Linked DNA regions of Homo sapiens. The protein of the gene in region 1 purifies or fractionates together with the protein of each later gene. This does not show direct contact. Each region holds a gene or a part of one and is shown in the gene's direction. Other genes may lie near its edges.

Region 1 (5,404 bases):
TCAGAATAACTTTTTTGTTTTTACTTTGAAACTTTTACTTTGAGACTAAGAGGCAAAAATAGACATCTTTGGGCTTAGGTAAGAAAATGATAGGCTCATGAAGGTGAAACTACTATTTGAAAGCTCTCAGCTTGCTGATTGAGAGGAAAATCAGGTGCAGGAAATAATCTCTTCTCTAAATATTTTCCCCATGGCTGGCAGCAGGCTTTTTGTCATGTAGTCAGATGTCTTTGATTCAGCTGGAAGAAAAGTCATCATCCTAGCTAAAGGTCAAACTTTTTGAGTAGGACTGAGCAGCTCTGAAACATGTAAAGGAGCAAGTTTTAAAAGCCATAGGCTAGAAAATATACTGGCAGCTTGTTTCACAGACATTTCCATTCAACAGTATTATTCTGTGATGTTACTTTCACCCACTTTCGTACCAGAGAAAGCAAAAACAATTGTAGAGTGGAAGTAAAAGACGCATGAAAAATTTGGAGTCAACAGAAGTCCACTAAATCCAGGTTCTGCTACATATTAGCTGTAAGTGTGCACGCTGCTCTTAGAGTTTCAGGAATTAAAATTGCCCATTTCACAAAGATGCCATTCCCTAGGAGGAAAATAAAATTAACATGGTAAATTCAATTTTATCAACCAGTTTACCTTTTACTATAAACTGGCTGGAATATGCAGTACTACAATTTGACTTAAATTTGATCCAGCTCTTTGAGCCCAAGTTCTAGTATTTACTATCAACAATACATTATGTTAAATGCACACATTGAGATGGATAGCTCCTTCTCAGGCTGGAAACTAAACGACCTTCACTTGATAAGACCTCTTGTGAGACCAGTCAGTGCAGAGTCAGCCAGTGATAATTGTTCTCTTTAAGGGGAGGCACATGTTTGGGGTACAGTGAACGTAGGTTGGAGCCTTAGTTTGAGCATTGGGAAAGTCAGTGGAATCAAAAGTCTGGTTCAAGTCCCTGCCCTGCCTTTTCTTCACTGAGTAACTTTGAGAAAGTTGTTTTACTTTTCTAAGCCTCATTTTTCTAATCTTTAAGTTAATGTCTAAAGTCCCTTTCAGCTATAGAATTGTCTTAGTGATCTTAGCCCTATGGTAAAAGATTCCAGTATAATTTAAGAATTTGGCCAAATGGTGTTTGTTTGTTTTTGTTTTTTTTTTTTTGTTTTTGTTTTTTTGAGGCAGGTTTTCCCTCTGTTGCCCAGGCTGGAGTGCAGTGACCCGATCTTGGCTCACTGCAACCTCTGCCTGCCAGGTTCAAGTGATTTTTGTGCCTCAGACTCCTGAGTAGCTGGGACCACAGGGATGCAGCACCATACCCAGCTAATTTTTGTATTTTTTGGTAGAGATGGGGTTTCACTATGTTGGCCAGGGTGGTCTCGAACTCCTGACCTCAAGTTATCCACCTGCCTCGGCCTCCCAAAGTGTTGGTATTACAGGTGTGAGCCACTGCACCTGGCCAAAAAAGTTTATTAGTACATGCGATTTTAAAACACCAGTCATATGAAATTATATCCCCTTAAATCACTGTGTCTAGGTTATACTGTGTCTAGGTTATACAACCTTATTGTTGAATTTTATTACCCAAACACTTGTTTTTTTGAGACCGAGTCTTGCTCTGTTGTCCAGGCTGCAGTGCAGTGGCATGATCACAGCTCACTGCCTCAACCTCCTGGGCTCAATCAGTCCTCTCACCTTAGCCTTCTTTGTATATGGGATTACCGGTGTGCCCTACCATGCCCAGGTAATTTTGATATTTTTTTTTTTTTGTAGAGACAGGGTTTCACCTTGTTTCCCAGGCTGGTCTTGAACTCAAGCAATCTACCCACCTTAGCCTCCCAAAGTGCTGATTATAGACATAAGCCACTGTACCACTTACCTTATTTAGAGCATTCTTCCTAAGGTCCTCCAGGTACTTTTCATTAGCTCTTTTTCCTGCCTGAAATACTCTTTCCCCGGAACTTATAACTGGCTCCTTTGGCTGTTCTAGTCTCTTAAGAGAGGCTGTTCCTGATCACCCAATCTAAAGTGAACACCATGTTTGCTTCTGTCATAATTCCTTATTTTAATTTTATTGTAGCATGTACTACTGCATGGTATGACATTTTATTTCTAGTCTTTTTTTTTTTTTTTTTTTTTTTTTTTTTTTGAGACAGGGTCTTACTTCTACATCCTCGAACTGGGCTCCACTTTTTTCATTATTAAATTGTATCTGGCATATGGCAGCAAGAACAGAAATGTCAGTTTCTGCTTGACTTTGGTATTGGGGCTTCTGATGGGGAAAAAAATTGAAACAAGGAAGTGAGGAGACTTCAGTGTAAATTTAGCTTGTCATTTCTCAGGAATCTTACGTATGTCATTTGTTACCTAGTCTTTTACAAATTAATAAAATGATTGCTGTTAGGATCTTGATTGATGATATCAAAACATGTTAATACCACACTTTTAATAGAAAATGTGGTAAATTATTGTGGTATAAAAAATGCAGGCCAGGTGCGGTGGCTCATGCCTGTAATCCTAGCACTTTGTGAGGCCGAGGTGGGCGGATCACCTGAGGTCAGGAGTTCGAGACCAGCCTGACCAACATGGAGAAACCTGTCTCTACTAAAAATAAAAAATTAGCCAGGCATGGTGACGCATGCCTGTAATCCCAGCTACTCGGGATGCTGAGGCAGGAGAATCGCTTGAACCTGGGAGGCAGAGGTTGCAGTGAGCCGAGATCGCGCCATTGCACTCTAGCCTGGGCAACAAGAGTGAAACTTCACCTCAAAAAATAAAATAAAATGCAAAAGGTACAAAAGAATATAGTAGTAAAAAGTAAATCCATATTTTTCATCCAGTCCCATTTATCAAAGGTAACTCTTGCCAGTTTTTGTGAATCCTTTCTAGAACTATTCTCTGCATCTATATAAGCACATTTTTTCCTTACTTTGCATAAATAAGACTGTTATATAGACAGCACATGCCTATATACCTTCGTCTTTTTTAATGACTGTATATCATTCCATCATAGGTGAACTCTGATGTATTTAGCATTTAGCTTGTTTCTCCCTTTTGCTATTACCATAAGGCTGGAGTACCCATCTTTTAAACCTTGCACGTGTTTTTGTACACATGTGGGAATAAATTTGTAGGATAAATTCCGCAAAGTGGAATTGTTGGTCTTGAAAATAATTGCATTTAAAATTTTGATATATATTAGTGGATAGATTTTTAAATCCTTAATATACCTCCAGTGGAAACTAAAACAAAGATATTATTTTAACTTACAAATCAAATAAGTATTTAAACTATGTTGGCATCATAAAATAAGGCTCCTGATAACATTTATGATGATTTAATAAATATTCCAGATATTGATTATAAAATTGTTTCTGTTGTAAATTAATAAACTTTTCATTTATGGAACACTGATGGTAGAAATCTACATTATTGGAAAACCAGTTGTCTTAGTCCATTTTCTGCTGCTATAACAATACTTGAGACTGGGTAATTTATAAAGAAAAAAATTTATTTGGTTCATGGTTCTGGAGGCTGAGAAGGGTGAGGGCCTTCTTGCTGTGTTATCCCATGGCAGAAGGCGAGGGTGAGAGAGAAAGCAAGAAAGGGTCGAACATGCCTTTTTTTTTTTTTCTAAAGGGACAGGGTCAGGTGCAGTGGTTCATGCCCATAATCCCAGCACTTTGGGAAGCTGAGGCTGGAGGATTTCATGAGACCAGGAGTTAGAGGCTGCAGCAAGCTATGATCATACCACTGCAATCCAGCCTGGGTGACAGAGCAAGACCCCATCTCAAAAAATAAGGAGTCGGGCCGGGCATGGTGGCTCATCCCTGTAATCCCAGTACTTTGGGAGGCTGAAGCAGGCAGATCACTTAAAGTCAAGAGTTCGAGATGAGCCTGGTCAGTATGGTGAAACCCTGTCTCTACTAAAAATACAAAAAAATATAGCTGGGCTTGGTGGCATACGCCTGTAGTTCTAGCTACTTGGGAGGCTGGGGTGGGAGAATTGCTTGAACCTGGGAGGTGGAGGTTGCAATGAGTCGAGATCGCGCCATTGCACTCCAGCCTGGGCCTCACAGTGAGACTCCATCTCAAAAACAACAACAACAACAACAACAAAAGGAGTCTTGCTACTATCTTACCCATGCTGGACTTGAACTCCCAGGCTCAAGGGATCCTCCCACTTACACCTGTAGCTGGGATTACAGGTGTACCCAGATGAACTCACATTTAAAACCAACCCACTCCTGCAATAAGGAACCCAGTCTTACCATAATGACGTTAATCCATTCATGGAGGGCAGATCCCAGATGACCCAGTCATCTCTTGATGGTCCCACCTCCCAACATTGTTGCATTGGAGATTGTTTCCAACACATGAAGATTAGGGACATATTCAAACCATAGCATCAGTTAAACCTGTCAGCTACAAATTCTCTATATAGTCTCACTTTCATCACATCAAAGGATAAAGGATAATTTTAACACTGGTGGGGAGGGTTTTTTTTGTCTTTTAAACAATGAGAATAGATGTCTTAACTTTGTTTATGTTTATATAGGGCACAGACCATCATGAAGGCTCGTTTAAAGGGAGCACAGACAGGTCGAAACCTCCTGAAGAAAAAATCTGATGCCTTAACTCTTCGATTTCGACAGATCCTAAAGAAGATAATAGAGGTAGAATGAACTTTTCTTAGAATAGTATTTATTTTAGAAAAATCCAGCATGGCCCTTGGCATTTTTTTTTTTGTTGTTGTTATTTTAATTAATTTTTTTCTTTCAAAAGTAAAAATACCATTATAAGTTTAACAAGTGTCAAATATCAAATAGTTCATTTAATAAAATCCAAACTCTTTAATCTTGCCTGCAAAGCTCCACTTGATCTGATTGGCCCCCCGCCTGCCTCTCTTACCTTATTTAGAGCATTCTTCCTAAGGTCCTCCAGGTACTTTTCATTAGCTCTTTCTCCTGCCTGAAATACTCTTTCCCCAGAACTTATAACTGGCTCCTTTAGCTGTTCTAGTCTCTTAAGAGAGGCTGTTCCTGATCACCCAATCTAAAGTGAACACCATGTTTGCTTCTCTCACAATTCCTTATTTTAATTTTATTGTAGCATGTACTACCGCATGGTATGACATTTTATTTCTAGTCTTTTTCTTTTTTTTTTTTTTTTGAGGCAAGGTCTTACTCTGCAGCCTCAAACTGGGCTCCAGTGATCCTCCCACCTCAGCCTCTCGAGTAGCTGTGACTACAGGTGCATGCTACCATTCTCAGCTCATTTTTTTTATTTTTAGTAGAGACGAGGTCTCACTATGTTGCCCAGGCTAGTCTTTTTGACTCCCGGGCTCAAACAGTCTTTCTATCTTGGCCTCCGAAAGTGCTGAGTTTACAGTTTTTGTGTT
Region 2 (4,853 bases), on another chromosome or scaffold:
TGGATCACCTGAAGTCAGGAGTTCAAGACCAGCCTGGCCAACATGGTGAAACCCCTTCTCTACAAAAATTAGCCAGGTGTGGTGGAGGGTGCCTGTAATCCCAGCTACTCGGGAGGCTGAGGTAGAAGAAGCACTTGAACCCGGGAGGCAGAGGTTGCAGTGAGCCAAGGTCGAGCCACAGCACTTCAGCCTGGGTGACAGAGCAAGACTCCATCTCAAAAAAATAAAAGGAGGCCGGGCGTGGTGGCTCATATCTATAATCCCAGCACTTTGGGAGGCTGAGGCAGGTGGGTCATGAGGTCAGGAGATTGAGACCGTCCTGGCTAATACAGTGAAACTCCGTCTCTACTAAAAATGCAAAAAATTAGCCGGGTGTGGTGGCACGTGCCTGTGGTCCCAGCTATTCAGGAGGCTGAGGCAGGAGAATAGTGTGAACCTGGGAGGCGGAGGTTGCAGTGAGCCAAGATGGCGCCACTGCACTCCAGCCTGGGCAATGGAGTGAGACTCTGTCTCAAAAAAAAAAAATTAAATTAAAAAAATAAAAAAAATATTGAAAGAGTGATTAGTAATGAAGATGGCCCCCAAAAAAGAGCAGTACCCAGAGGGGAGAGAGAATTCTGAATTGAGAGGACTGTTTCTAGAGTACCACAGCCAGCAGGGCACAGGCCACTGAAGTGTCTTGTATGTCTGACCCTGTGCAGTCCCTCCAAGTCCTGATTCTCTTGTGATGTATTGTGAAGGTGCTGTGAGTGACTTGGTTCAGGTGCGAATCTGTTAGGTTGTTGAGCAGACAGCTCTTCAGCATCCCCCGTATTACCTCTCTGTGCTGGGCAACAAATCACTACAGGCCTGGTGGCTTCGAACAGCAGCCATTTATTTCCTAGCTTCTGTGGGGCAGGAGTCCAGGCACAGCGAACTCAACCTAGGGTCTCATAAAGGCTGCATTCAGGGTGTTGGCTAGGGCTGGGTTCTCATCAGGAGACTTGACTCAGAGGATCCACATCCAGGCTCTTCTAGACTGGGGACAGAATTCCTTTTCTTAGGGCTGAAGCATTCTTGGCAGCTTTACTTCTTCAGAGCCAGCAGTAGAGACAGAGACTCTTATAAGATAGGTGCTAAACTCTTCTGTGATACAGCCCATCATCACCTTTTGTGAATTCCGCTACTTAGAAGCAAGTCAGAGATCTCACCTGTGCTCAAGGTGGGAGGGGATTACAGGAGCTGGGGGCCTGGGGCCACTGTGAAGTCTGTCTGTCACACTTACCAAGTGTGGCCAGGAGAGATGCAGAGGACACCGTCCATGCCCTTAGAGATGCTGTCTGTGGGAGGACTCTGCAGATGAGTTGGTCCAGTAGAGGCATGAAGTAAGTGGGGCTGTCTTTTACCACAGAGCACATGGTCATGAGGCAGAGCTGGAGGTGAATTTGAATGTTGTTGTATTCAGACGTAAAGTAATTTTGCTGAGAACCAGTTGTCATGAGGTATACTTACTTACCTTACTTACCTAAAGATTATCACAGTATTTAAACTGTAACTTAAGAGGTAAAAGTCTATTAAGTATGTTGATGAATATAACCTGCACAGTGGCTGGCAGCAAGTAAACCCTGTTTGGGTGTTCAACTTTAATTTTTTGTTGAAATATGTAAGCAGGAGAGTGCACCTACCGCAAGTGTTCAGTTTGTTCATTTTTAAAAACTGAACCCCCTGTATAACCAGCAGTCAATAAGAGCAACGGTAGCAGCACCTCAGAACACCCCCAGCACCTCCTTCAGTTCACTTGTCCCATCCCAGGGGTGACAACTGTCCTGTCTCCCAGGACAACCAAAACAAAGGTTGTTTTGCATCTTCTGCACTTTTAATGAATGGTATTACATGGTGTATGTTCTTTGCAGGTTGGTCTCTTTCACTCAGCGTTGCCTTCAGGAGAGTCATCCACGTGGTTGGTTTAGAGCACATTGTGTCACTATAAGCCTTCTTATGAAGACACTAGACTATCCATCTCCTATATGGATGGACTTTTGGGTTGTTTCCAATTGTGGTTTACGAGGAGTAGGGTTGCTGTCCACATTTTAGTACCTGGTTTTTGGTGAACACATTTGCTTCTGTGGGGTGTAAAATTAGGAGTGGAATTACTGAGTCATAGGGTATGCATGTGTTCAACTTTTGTGGATGTTTCCACATGATTTTCCAAAGTGAAACCCTGTTTTGAGATCTGGAATATTGACTGTCTTTCACTCTCCTTGGACCCTAGGGCTACAGAACTGGCTACCCTTATCGATACCCTGCTCTGAGAGAGAAGTCTAAAAAATACAGCGATGTGGAGGTTCCTGCTAGTGTCACAGGTTACTCCTTTGCTAGTGACGGTGATTCGGGCACTTGCTCCCCACTCAGACACAGTTTTCAGAAGCAGCAGCGGGAGAAGACAAGATGGCTGAACTCTGGCCGGGGCGACGAAGCTTCCGAGGAAGGGCAGAATGGAAGCAGTCCCAAGTCGAAGACTAAGGTGTGGACGAACATTACACACGATCACGTGAAACCCTTGCTGCAGTCTCTCTCGTCCGGTGTCTGCGTGCCAAGCTGTATTACCAACTGCTTGGTCTGTGCCTACCTTACTGTTCATAGTTAGATGACGTAGAGCAAGTTGGGTAGCTGGGGCTTCGGAGGCTTTGGGAATCCAGCCTTTCTGACCCAGGTGTAAAGCGAACCTTCCTTATTCACTTTCTTGTAGTCTGAACCTAAGTCCACTGAATGCATTACTAAAATTCGGATAATACTATCTGCTTGAAACTGCTTAAGATGTAATGTAACTCCGCAGTAGTTCCAGTATATCTCCGTATATAGCAAAAATATACAATAATTTACATGTATTAACCTACAAATAGGAGCTCTTCTTATTTAATTCAAATTATATTCAGGGACTCTTAATACTTCATGCACAAAAAGACACTTCAGTCCTAAACCTGTATTTTAGTGTTGTGAACTCCAGTGGTTTCAAGTCACTAAAGTTTCTTAAGTCTTCAGTGTTTTCTTAAGCAGTTTTCCCTTGTGGCTCCCTGGCGTGTTCTCTGCTGACTCTTGTCCCCTGCCCTTAGTGTTATTCCCCTGCTTTCTATCCCAAAGCCTCCGAATGCACACCCCCAGCTGCCCTCTGCATGGACTGTTGCATGTGAGTAGACGGCCATAGTGGCGAGTCACCTTCTGACTCCTGTTGGGTGCGGCATGACCCAAGTGCAGCGCAGGCCATCTGCAGGCACCAGCGACAGACGCTGCAAGGGGTGCTTCGTTTCAGCGTTAATGCCGCTCAAGTTATCGTTTGTCCTGAGAGGTGCTCCCATGTCGTGGTGCTGAGACCTCCTCTGAAGATGGGTCTTTATTCCTCCTGTAACCTACCTCTAACAGTCCACCCAGCTCTGCTTTAAACTGTATGTAGAAGAGGCCCATTTCCAGAAGCCCCTGGAATGGAGGAGACAGGGGCTGAAGCAGACTCATCTGTGCATGACTAGTTCATTAGGAGTTCAGTTGAAATTAGATTAGATGCTCCTAAAACCATGGGCAACCAAATACATAAAGTGGGGCTTTCTTTTCCCCTTGTAACAGTGTTTTACTTTATAGATTTATTTAAAGAAAAAAAGTTTTATCTTCCCCAGGTGGTCCTGGTGTTTTCCTGACGCAGTTGGTGAGAAGCCTCCGTGCTCCTGAGCGGCCGCGTCACCTGGGCAGGGACCCTGTGTGGCCATGGGGCTCTGAGCATGGGAGTGCGTCTCTCCTCTTCTTTCCTGCCCTCCTTGTCTTCTTTCCCCCCTTCTTCCTGTCTCCCCTTTTCTTTCATTTGTTTATTTTTTACTTGTTTCACTTGTTAAAGGAAGTGGGCGTTATAAAACAAAAAAAAAAAACCCCAAAACACCTTTCTGCGGCTGATGTGAAGCACAGTGCTGAATTGCCATGAGGAAGTTTTCCAAAGCGTTTAGGCAGCAGCGCGAGCTTTATTTACCATTAGCTTGCAAAACAACTAAGTCACTTTAGGCCTAGTAGTCAATGTGTACATCCAAGGGGAGGCCTTGCTCCGCATTTATATTTGTTTCTTACTGTTCTGGAGTGACAGAGTCCATGCAGTGCTCCCAGGTTGGTATCTTTTCATTTATAATGATTGCTGTTACTTTTTCAAATGTGTTCAAGTTTCTGAGGTTGCTGTTTGAAATGCTTTGACTAAAAATTATTTTTAATAAAACGCTGGAGTTGTTTTTATCTGAGAAGATAACCATCAGTGAGTACCCAGAGCTCCATGCCCATTCCACACTCTCCTCGCAGTGGCTCAGCATTTGCTGGTTTTGTTGCTTTTTTTAAAGTCGTATGGTTTATGGCTATCTTATTGCCTCTCGAAAGTATTCTGAAAGGCATAACATTTGCTCTCGAAGATGGGCTTGTTTTAATGTTCAGTGCCTACTCATGCCTTAGAATTTGATTAAAAATCTCAGATTTGATTGGAGATCCAAAAAAAAATTATGGGTGGAAGGCTCAGCATGCTGACGAGATGCACTGATACTAAAACAGCCTTTAAATATTAAGGACTCATGAAGCGCTTCAAGTTTGTTTGGGATATTTTTGTAGCACTCAAAAATATTAAGTTATATAAAATATTCGACATCACCAAACTCTTCTTCCAGGTAGCTACCGTGTAAGTGTCCATACAGTAATGTTCTTGGGTTGAAAGTTACGCAGACAGTGCATTCTGATGCTGTCATTTACTTTAATGCAAAACTTTGGTGATGCCCACTCTTGCCTCACGGTGCAGGCTCCTCCCTAACCCTGGGTAGCAGCATCACATTGCTTTTCATGACCCTGTCATCTCATGC
Region 3 (4,853 bases), on another chromosome or scaffold:
CCATTGTTTGGCTGTACTATTCCTCCATAGCTGCAGTGAGGCGTGTTTAGCAAATATGAGCCTATGTGTGTCCCTACAAAAAGCCAGATGGATGGTGGGGCCTCTTGGCCACTGTACATACCAGATTGTTTTCTTGTGTTACATGAAACATTAAGGAAATGGAAAGCAAAATCTATTATCGTATGTCCTGTTTTCACACAGACAAGGAGAAAGATAGTACCAGCCCTTCTCGGTTACTACTGTGGTCACTCTGGGGCAGTGAAACCCTTCACAAAGCCTGGGGCACAACAGTGCTTACTTGCCCAGCTCAGAGGGTTATGGGTCTTAACTCCTTCAGACCCTGGACTGGTAAGGCCAGGTCAGATGGCAGTCCTGGGGACATGAGAAAGGCCTGAAGAATCACACAGATGTTCAAGGTCAGAGCAGAAACAAGGGTCAGAAATGGGGTAGGAACTGTTAGCACTAGACAGACAAAACAGTTCCCAAACCAGGAAGCTGGAAGCCAGGAGGACACAAATTCCAGAGCAAGGCAGGGGTCAGAAGTTCCAATGAAAAGCAAATGACTGGTGGGAGCCGAAGGCAGGGTAAGCACGGTGGGTTACTCTCGGAATAAGAATATTTTGTTATCTGAGGCAGCCAATGGCCTTTGAGTGCCTCTCAAGGCAGGAACATTTCCTCACTGGCGCCCACTTGGGCCTCGTTCTTGACACTGTAAAGGAAAGGGTCTTTGGGGGTTAAGGACCTTCCCTTCCACAGGAGCTGTGGAATGGGATTCTCCCAGCTAGAAGCCTCTTCTGCCTGTTCCAGTTCACAGGTGGGTGATGAGAAAGTCCATCCACTTCCTGCTTAGCTTTCCTCTGTGCTTGAGCGCCTCTGCTTAACCATCCGTGCCCTTGGTTCAGCTAAACATTCCCACTCACAGGACCCACATGGGCCTTGCTGATACCGGGTGGGTTATGCAGCTTGTAGATGGATATGGAAAAGGAAACTCAGCCTATCAGCACAATGTCTGGTGTGTCTCTTCAGCAGGAAGAGTCCTTCCAGTGTCCAGGGGCTCTTGTCCAGCCCCTGTAAGTGTTGCCTTAGCTGAGAGGAAATGAAAACACATAGGTGGGCATGGGACCCACCCTGCTTAGAATCCCTCTGCCCCATAGGAACCAGTGTCTCTTGTAATGGCCCTTGGGCACAGCTTCCAGGGACTTAGCAAGGGGCTTTCCAGTAATAAGTCATTTCGCACTCTTGGAAGTCCAAGGCTATGGATTCCTGCCAAGTAATTCTAGGTCATGCAGTCCTTCCTGTCCACATAAAGTGTACCCATCAGGAGGCATTTCTCCCATATGACATTCCCCTTTATCCAGGGAAGTAGTATATGAGGAAGTTTAAGCCAGGCCATTTTTCCTCGAAGGAGAATCAGTCTACTCCCGTGACATTGGACATAGACCAGGGATCTGTGTTACCCAGTGTTTCATTGCTGCACCTTGCATGCCCACATGATTGAACTATTCTTTCGGCCAGTTACTCTTTGTAGGGCAGATAATGTCTTCTTAAAATATCTGGCTTTTAAAATATCTGGTCATTTGCCCTTTACTATTTAGCCTTTATTTTGGAGTCACTTTAGGGAGTTTTTGGTTTGGGTCTGCATCGTCATCACTTATCACCAGATGGCAGCAAAGGACCTTGGTCAGATATGAATATGGCCAGCTGCAGACTGTCAGGGCCTTGTGCTGCTCCTCAGGCTCCACCGAGGCTGTCCACACTCCCACTTTTCCCTCCCTACTTCCAACCAAAAGGGCCATGGGCGTTTGGCTGTGGCCCCAGGCTTACACCAGGATGCTGCCGTTGCCTTACTGTTGAGCTGCTTTGGACAGTAGGCTGCTTTGTAGCCCTGCTGGCCTTGCTGTGGACACATAGCAGTTTGCCTGCTTTTGACATCCTCCCCTGCCCCCATCACTTCCCTGACTCCCAGAAGGGGCTACTAGGCTCTTCTCAGTAGGGATTGGAACCCTGGCTGGGTCACAGCCAGTTGGTAACACCACCCTATCTGTCTGCCCTCAGTCCCTTGTAATTAATGGGTTTGTGTGCCCATCCTGACCCCAGCTGGGCTTTGGTACCTGGCTGGATTGTAGTCCCTGAAAGCAGTACTTCTGTAACATCGCTGCCCTCCAAAATGGCCTTTGACTCATTTATGACAAGCACAGCCATGGCACTATCAGTCTCATCAGCTTCCAGACAGCTACCCCCATAGACAGTGATGAGAGTGGCTTGTTGTCCTCTTGGTAAAACCTGCTTCACTCCAGACTTCACCTTTTCCCGTATACAACCAAGGAGGAGAGTTCACCCTTTTTCCTGCCTCAGAGCTTTTGCCATCATGTCTAGTGGATCAGCCCCTGCCCAGGCACCAAGTCCTGCCAGCAGGTCCTTCCTTTCACTCTCTTTTTTGTCTCCTGCTCTTGTGGCATGTTGAGTTGAGAGTCTGAAAACTAAGTTTACTCCCAGCGCCATTCTGCTGCACCACAGTCTTTAACCACCGCAGGTTTTGGGTTCATCTAGGCAGCTACACTCAAAAGACACCCATGGGCTTGGCTGATCCTAGTTTTTTATTCAGCTTTTTCAGTGGATATAGGATATGTAGCCCAGTGTGTTGGCAGGACAGCTTCGAGTGTCTCTCTCAGCAGGAGTTCTCACAGAGTCCGGGGCTATTCCCCCACTTACCACCTCCCAGGATGGCTCAGGTTTAAGGGAATGAAGCCACACAGGTGGGAGCAGGAGCTACTGGCTTAGAGACTGCTGTCTATAATAGTAAACTGTTCTGGGAGCCTTTTCACCAGAAGCCATGAAGTCTGGTCCTATGTATTTCCGGGGAAACAGAACACAAGGAAAATACTTACCTGTGAGTAAGGAGAAAGGGTGTTGCACACCTTTTCTCTCAGCTTGTGATCTTAGCACATGGGGGCCTTTGCTGTTGACCTGTGTAGCCAGTTGTTAAAGATGTAGTGGTGAATACCGTGTCTGTCCTTCTCTTCCCTGCAGTGCGACTGGCTCAACAATTACCACCTGACCTGCAGGGATGTGATTGGGAAGGAATTGCAGAAACAGGGCCGCCAGGAAGCTCTCGAGTGGCTCATCAGAGAGACGCAACCCATCTCCAAACAGCATTAATAAATACCTCCCCGGTTTTGTTTTTGTAAAATGCTCTGGAGGAAGGAAGAAACGTGGCAGATCCCTGACATCTTTCCCCTTTCCTTTCCTTCTTCCCTACCTCCCCTTTTTACTTTAGACTTTAAGAAGAACAGAAAATCTTCTTATCCTCTTTGATATTTTATTGCAAACACTCAGTCTTTTATGATTTTTTAATTGTTGAGAACAAGCCAAGAATAAAATTGCTGCACCAGAAGGAGGGTCCCTCCAAAGTTGAACACTTGGTGAAAGGAAGATGCCCCGACTTCTTTGGCCAGTGATGGGGAATCAGTGAGTGCTCCATGATGGTCATGTTCCAGGTGCTAGTACATCATTCATGATCACCTTAATGCTCATGAGACTATATTTATGATCAGTGAATAAAAATGTCAGAACTGTGCTTTGTCTTAGCTGTCTCTTTCTTCATGGTGCTGTCCCCCGGCATGTCGGGTGAGCTGATCTCCAGGGCTGCTGGCTCTGTGGCAGACATTTCCTAGGTGGAAGGGCCCCTTTGAGAAGAGACCCCTGGCCTCCCCGCACATTTGGGGGCTTAGTTGTAAGCTTTTTCTTTTCTCTAGAAAACCTAATATTATGGTGTTTTTATCTCAGTTTTTTTTCCTGATTTTAAAATATGTCATTCCTATGCAAAAAACAATAAAAATTATGTCAAAAGTCAGTTTTCCATAACTCACCCTATAGCAGATGCCACAAGTGTCTTACCTACATGGCCACAGCTCTCATTGTTCCGTTACTTGTAGGCAGGATTCTGTGACAAGTGCCTGCGACTCCCATTCTGCAGGATTTCTTTTGACTTGTATATGTGGGGCAAGCTCCAAGGGTTGGAGAGTTAATGTCCCTGAGATCTCAGACCATCACGTTTGGGGATGGGATGGGCAAATAGACTTCCTCATCCTTTGGCTAAGATATCAGAGGTATGTCTTACATTGTCACTCAGGGTTTCCCAGTGGGATTGAGCCCCACTTGCCCACCATGGTAACTTGCTCAATAACCAACCCTTTGTTTTCTTTCTTCTCTTCCATGTCCTACTTTCTTCCTGTCCCATTAGTGTTTCCTGGTACCATCCTGAATGAACCATTTACATGCAAATCCTTGTTTTAGGGTCTGCTTTTTTATTAATCCAACCTGACATACTCCTTAGATATAACCACTATTATCTGCTTTATATTTTTTGCTGACTCCTTTTTTTTTTGTATTCAAAATTTACTAAAATACTGATTATTTGTGTATGTATGAAAGAATATGCCATATATGAACATATCACATTTACAAACAGTGAATTATTCTGTACGTATACAATTTTATCTTTTAACTTGGCAATATTTTAGATTGAATTATTTTTAATGACTTAATTCCATCGTATGGTTATATTGTTTTAAAACTAGCCTCATTAACTTTTTAAAAACAGTAATACTAGCATTTAGACATAATTTTTTAAAAAATGTATTAGTCTTAAATCATATAGAAAACAAAAACTGGAATCACAAGCTATCAGTACACTAATACTGGTTTTTATAATTGCCCAATGTATTTATTTTTCTTGAGATCTTTATTTCTTCATACTGCTTTGGGTTACTGTCTAGTGTCCTTTCATTGTACTTTGCAGAACTCCTATAAGCATTTCTTGCAGGGTGGGTCTAGTGGTACTGAACTCCCTC
Region 4 (4,853 bases), on another chromosome or scaffold:
AGTGGGGATGGTTTCAGTATGAAACCGTTCCACCTCAGAACATCAGGCATTAGTTAGATTCTCATAGGGAACACACAGATGTGCAGTTCACAATAGGGTTCGCGCTCCTGTGAGAGTCTGATGCCACTGCTGATCTGACAGGAGGCGGAACTCAGGCGGTAATGCCCACTCATCCACCCCTCACCTCCTATGTTGTGGCCCGGTTCCTAACAGGCCATGAACCAGTACTGGTCCACGGCCTGGGCGTTGGGGACCCCTGAGATAAAGGACCTGGCTGATGAGTAAAATGAGCTGTTTTATCCCTTTTGCATTCTGAACGCTCTGTTTATACATCCCAAGGCGCCCACGTCATGTGCACGTTTAACGTGGACATTGACACTAGCACCGCATCCCTTGACTCCACTGTATTTCTTTGTTTCTCATTTTAAAACTAGTGTGGGCCTTTGACAAGTTCCAAGAACATAAGGAGGAAAATGCACATCATCTGTAATTTCACCACTTAGAACCTCCGTTAACCTTTAGGTACATGTTCATTGGTTTTTGTTTACATATGTATACATCCTTGCATAGGTCTTAGTTACACTCTAAGCACAGATGCGTGTCTTGTTTTCAGCAGTTGATATATATTAAACATTTTCCCATCATAATGCTTCATGAACTTTGTAGTGGCTGCAAAGTATTTCACTATGCAGTTGTACCATACTGTAACCATTTCCCTAAATGTTAGCTTTTCCTAGCTTTTCTCTATTATAAAGTTGCAGGAAACATCTTTGTGCTGTAAATCTTATCTTTTCTCAAATCAGTCTGTGACAGTAGTACATAATGGTTGAGAGCACAGGCTCTGGAACCAAACTACCCGGATTCATATCCCAGCTCTGTCAGCTTCCATTTAGATGAACATGTTGCTTATTATCATCTCTGTGCCTCGGATTTCTCATCTGTGAAGCAAAGACAACAGCACCTACCGCTGAATGGTTAGGGGTTAAATGAGGAAGCATTTACATACTCAGAACGGTCTTTGGCACGTGACCAGCAGCACTTACGTACAAATATTGGCTATTACTTTTATTGCTGTTATTCTGATAAAATAACTGGTCAGAATATTCTGGTTTATTTTTAATGACAATATTAAGCTAATTTTTCTATTCTTCGCTATTTGATAGAAATCAGGAAGTCACTTCAGCATCTTATTGATTGATTTCTTTCTTTTCTAGATATACAAGAAGAGATGTCCTTCCACTAGGAAAATTTACAGTTAACTTGAGTGGTTGCCCACGGAATAGTACCTTCACAGAACACTTGTATCGAATTATTCAACATCTTGTTCCAGCAGTAAGATGAATATAAATATGTATTATAAACCTAAGCACACTTAAAAAATCCATCTAACTGTCTTTCATTCACTTCAAATATTTAACTTAGAGATTTTAATAGATCTTATTTAAGGGGAAACAAAGCCTGCCAAATTACATAATTTAAAATGTACGTTCCCCTAAACATTTCACTTTTTTTTGTCTTTTTGCCTAAGCACAAATTTCTGTAAGTCTAACAAAACAATTGTAGTAACTCCCTTAAAATTACACTCTCTTGATACCAATTTGTCCAATTTGGTATCCTTTTTGTACACTAAAGTCTTAAATCTAAATAAACTCTAAATTGTAGGAGCATAATTCTTTTAGTTGAGGTAATAAAGTTCTTTATCTCCATTGCCTCAATTTTAATTCCTGTTTGGAAAGTTGAGCTCACTTTATTTGCCAGGGTATCTGGAATGCAGTATTTGCGTGGTGGTAGGATCTTGGGAACAGGGGAATTGCTTCTGATTAGTTGTGTGACTGAAAATACTGATCACTTCTTTGGAAATTGAAGAGGGTGCACTAGATCTTTATTGAACCGAATGTATTCAGTGTCTCAGTGCTAACACTCGTCCAGGCCCTCAAGAAGCAGAAGTGGACTGGAATATACCAGCAGTTCTCAGTCTCCTTAGACTCACTTTACACTCTGAAAAATGTGTTCATACTCAAAGAGCTGTTTTTCACGTTATGATTATATTTATCATTAATTTACCAAACTAGAAGATAAAGTAAATACACCTATTAAAAATAAAAAATTACATATAAATATTTTTATAAAAACAACTTTTCCCAAGCCAAAAATGATTAGTGATAAAGGTGACATTGTTTTACATTCTTGCAAATCTCTTCAATGTCTGGATTAATAGGAGACAATGGATGCTTGTATCTGCTTCTGCCTTCAGTCTATTGTAGTCTCAGGTTTTGGTTGAAGTATATGAAGGAAAGCTGGCCTCACACAGATGGAAAAGTAGATGGTAAAGGAAGGATGGTTTCGATAGCCTTTGCAGATAACTGGGTGGTGGTCTTTGATACTAGACCAAAACTGTCCACATGAGATTTTCTTAAAGATAGTTAAGTGTGGAATCTGAAATCCTATTCGTAAACTTTCCATAGTCTGCTATGGTAAAATTCATTAGTCTCGCACATTGAAAGGATCTTTTATCCATGCATGATTTTGACCTGATTGACCCTGTAAAAGGGTTTAAGCAATTCCCTGGGGGTTCTCGGGACCACATTTTGAGAATTATTGAAACAGATCCTTTGCCCTCACAGAGTTTAGGTAGAAGACCAACAAATAAATTAATACATGGTAGGTCATTTAAGCACCCCTAAGCTCCCCGTTTTCTTAGAATCACTGAGGTAATACACAAAACTCCTCTAAATTTTCGCAATATATCTTACCTCTTCCTTGACAGCCTTCCCCCACCATACCCTCTTCTCCATCCCTGCCACATTGTTTGAGGCTGGAGGGATGGAAGAATGGATTGGTGTATAAGGCAGAGCACAGAGGGTGTTGGGAATGGTGGCTCAAGAGCTGGAGGAGGAGCATAGATGGTTCGCTTACTCGTTAAACACTGAGTGAGAAGGTGCTCGCGTCCTGGAGGCACCTCCTGAGAGCTGCAGGTCCATCCACAGCTCAGTGTGCTCTGCTCCTTGATTTTTCTCTGAAAAGTTTGTTCAAAAATGTCTATGATAAATGAATACAATTTTAACTCAAAGAATATAGAGGAAAATTAAGCTTTTCTCTCCCTGTCTTGAAGAGTAAAATTAACATTTTCTTTTTGCTAGCTAGCTTGTGTTAGGTGAAAGAGGTTAGGTTTTGGGGTATTTAATATTTATATGTCAGTTATCTACCATTTGTTTCATTGGTTAAATTAAAATTGATTTTCAAGAATATTGAACAAGACATTTGAGAATAAAGTAGCTCATAAAATGGATGAAATTCAAATGTAAGATCTAGATACTATTTTTGCTTCTGGAGTTCAAGAAACCATATCACTACTCCCTTAGAAATTTATAAGATCACTTTTTCCATATGAAACACAATGTTTAATTCCAAGTACATATTTTCTTAAAACAGGGAAACTTAAATTCTTGTTCACTAAAAAATTTCTCTTTGCAGTCTTTTCGTCTGCAGATGACTATAGAGAACATGAACCATTTGAAATTCATTCCCCACAAAGACTACACAGCCAATCGCTTGGTCAGTGGGCTCCTCCAGCTGCCCAGCAATACTTCCCTTGTAATCGATGAGACTCTCCTGGAACAGGGGCAGCTGGATACCCCAGGTACGTACATAGATGTTTCTCTTCCATTTCTGACTTCCTTCGCACTAAAGCCAGATCTAGGAATAACTTTTAGAAGAGTATCTATGGACAAATTCACATTTAACAACGTAAGATAAAGGCTTGGCATATGAATTTGATTAAAGCATATGTTATAAACTAATTATATACACCAACTATGTTTTGCCATAGTATTCTGAAAGTAGTACAATGGAACAGATATATATCTTATATAATATATCTTATATAATATATATCATATATAATATATAATGTCTCATTTAATATATATCATATATTATATATTTTATATATTATATAATGGAGCAATAATATAAAGGGTAGTATTAGTATAATGGAGCAGTAATATAAAGGGTAGTATTAGATGTTGAGGGTCGTAAGGGTTCTTTGGTGAAAAGTTTTATTGTGTCAGCGAATGGTTGGAGCAGTCTTTATGGGCCTACAGTGTTGGGTTCTTTTGCGTAGTTGTATATAACCTAAAATTTTTTTTTCAGTGAGTGTAAGGAATGGTAGAGACAGGGTCTCGCTATGTTGCCCAGCTGATCTTGAATTCCTGGGCTCAAGTGATCCTCCTGCCTTGGCCTCCCACAGTGCTGGGATTACAGGTGTGAGCCACTGCACCTGCCCCAAATAGCTTTTTAAAAAGCTGAAATGGGAGGAAGCTTTGCCTTTAGTCATCTAATACCTCAAAAGGGAAGTGTAGAAAAGATCTAATATAATTTTTTTTTTGTTTTGAGACGGAGTCTTGCTCTGTCGCCCAGGCTGGAGTGCAGTGGCCAATCTTGGCTCACTGCAACCTCCAACTCCCGGGTTCACACCATTCTCCTGCCTCAGCCTCCCGAGTAGCTGGGACTACAGGCACCCGCCATCACGCCTGGCTAATTATGTTTTAACCTCCCGTTGTAAAGTTTGTAAATGGTTTTCAGAGAATGTCTGAGAAATAATAGATCAAATGGTTTGCACTAACCTCAGTTGCGGAATATATTATAAAATCACAAGAAAGCAGATTGTTTACCAGTGCTCAAATGAAGACAATTAAGAATACACTGCTGGCGATCAGCTCAAGAGGTAAAGGTAGAAGAAAAAATGAGGTAGACTGGGCATGTTTAAGGCAAAGGGGAATATAAAATCTGTAAAATTCACTAGGCTGATCTATGTATGACGGTAGTTTTAGTGTTTCCTTGGTTTAGCCCTG

The links.
Region 2: the proteins of ATP6V1D (region 1) and ADD1 purify together in Homo sapiens (affinity purification with mass spectrometry; one large-scale study listed by BioGRID and IntAct). This does not show direct contact.
Region 3: the proteins of ATP6V1D (region 1) and XPNPEP1 fractionate together in Homo sapiens (co-fractionation; 2 studies listed by BioGRID). This does not show direct contact.
Region 4: the proteins of ATP6V1D (region 1) and MCMBP fractionate together in Homo sapiens (co-fractionation; one large-scale study listed by BioGRID). This does not show direct contact.

What each region holds. Positions count from the first base shown.
Region 1 is NC_000014.9:67,352,198-67,357,601, reverse strand, and holds part of ATP6V1D (V-type proton ATPase subunit D), read left to right. Parts: intron 1-4,561; coding exon 4,562-4,679; intron 4,680-5,404. UniProt on the Homo sapiens protein: Subunit of the V1 complex of vacuolar(H+)-ATPase (V-ATPase), a multisubunit enzyme composed of a peripheral complex (V1) that hydrolyzes ATP and a membrane integral complex (V0) that translocates protons.
Region 2 is NC_000004.12:2,902,513-2,907,365, forward strand, and holds part of ADD1 (alpha-adducin), read left to right. Parts: intron 1-2,251; coding exon 2,252-2,596; intron 2,597-4,853. UniProt on the Homo sapiens protein: Membrane-cytoskeleton-associated protein that promotes the assembly of the spectrin-actin network. Binds to calmodulin.
Region 3 is NC_000010.11:109,863,490-109,868,342, reverse strand, and holds the end of XPNPEP1 (xaa-Pro aminopeptidase 1), read left to right. Parts: intron 1-756; coding exon of another isoform or gene 757-814; intron 815-3,030; coding exon 3,031-3,159; coding exon of another isoform or gene 3,160-3,188; 3' UTR 3,189-3,577; downstream 3,578-4,853. UniProt on the Homo sapiens protein: Metalloaminopeptidase that catalyzes the removal of a penultimate prolyl residue from the N-termini of peptides, such as Arg-Pro-Pro. Contributes to the degradation of bradykinin.
Region 4 is NC_000010.11:119,837,322-119,842,174, reverse strand, and holds part of MCMBP (mini-chromosome maintenance complex-binding protein), read left to right. Parts: intron 1-1,214; coding exon 1,215-1,332; intron 1,333-3,474; coding exon 3,475-3,640; intron 3,641-4,853. UniProt on the Homo sapiens protein: Associated component of the MCM complex that acts as a regulator of DNA replication.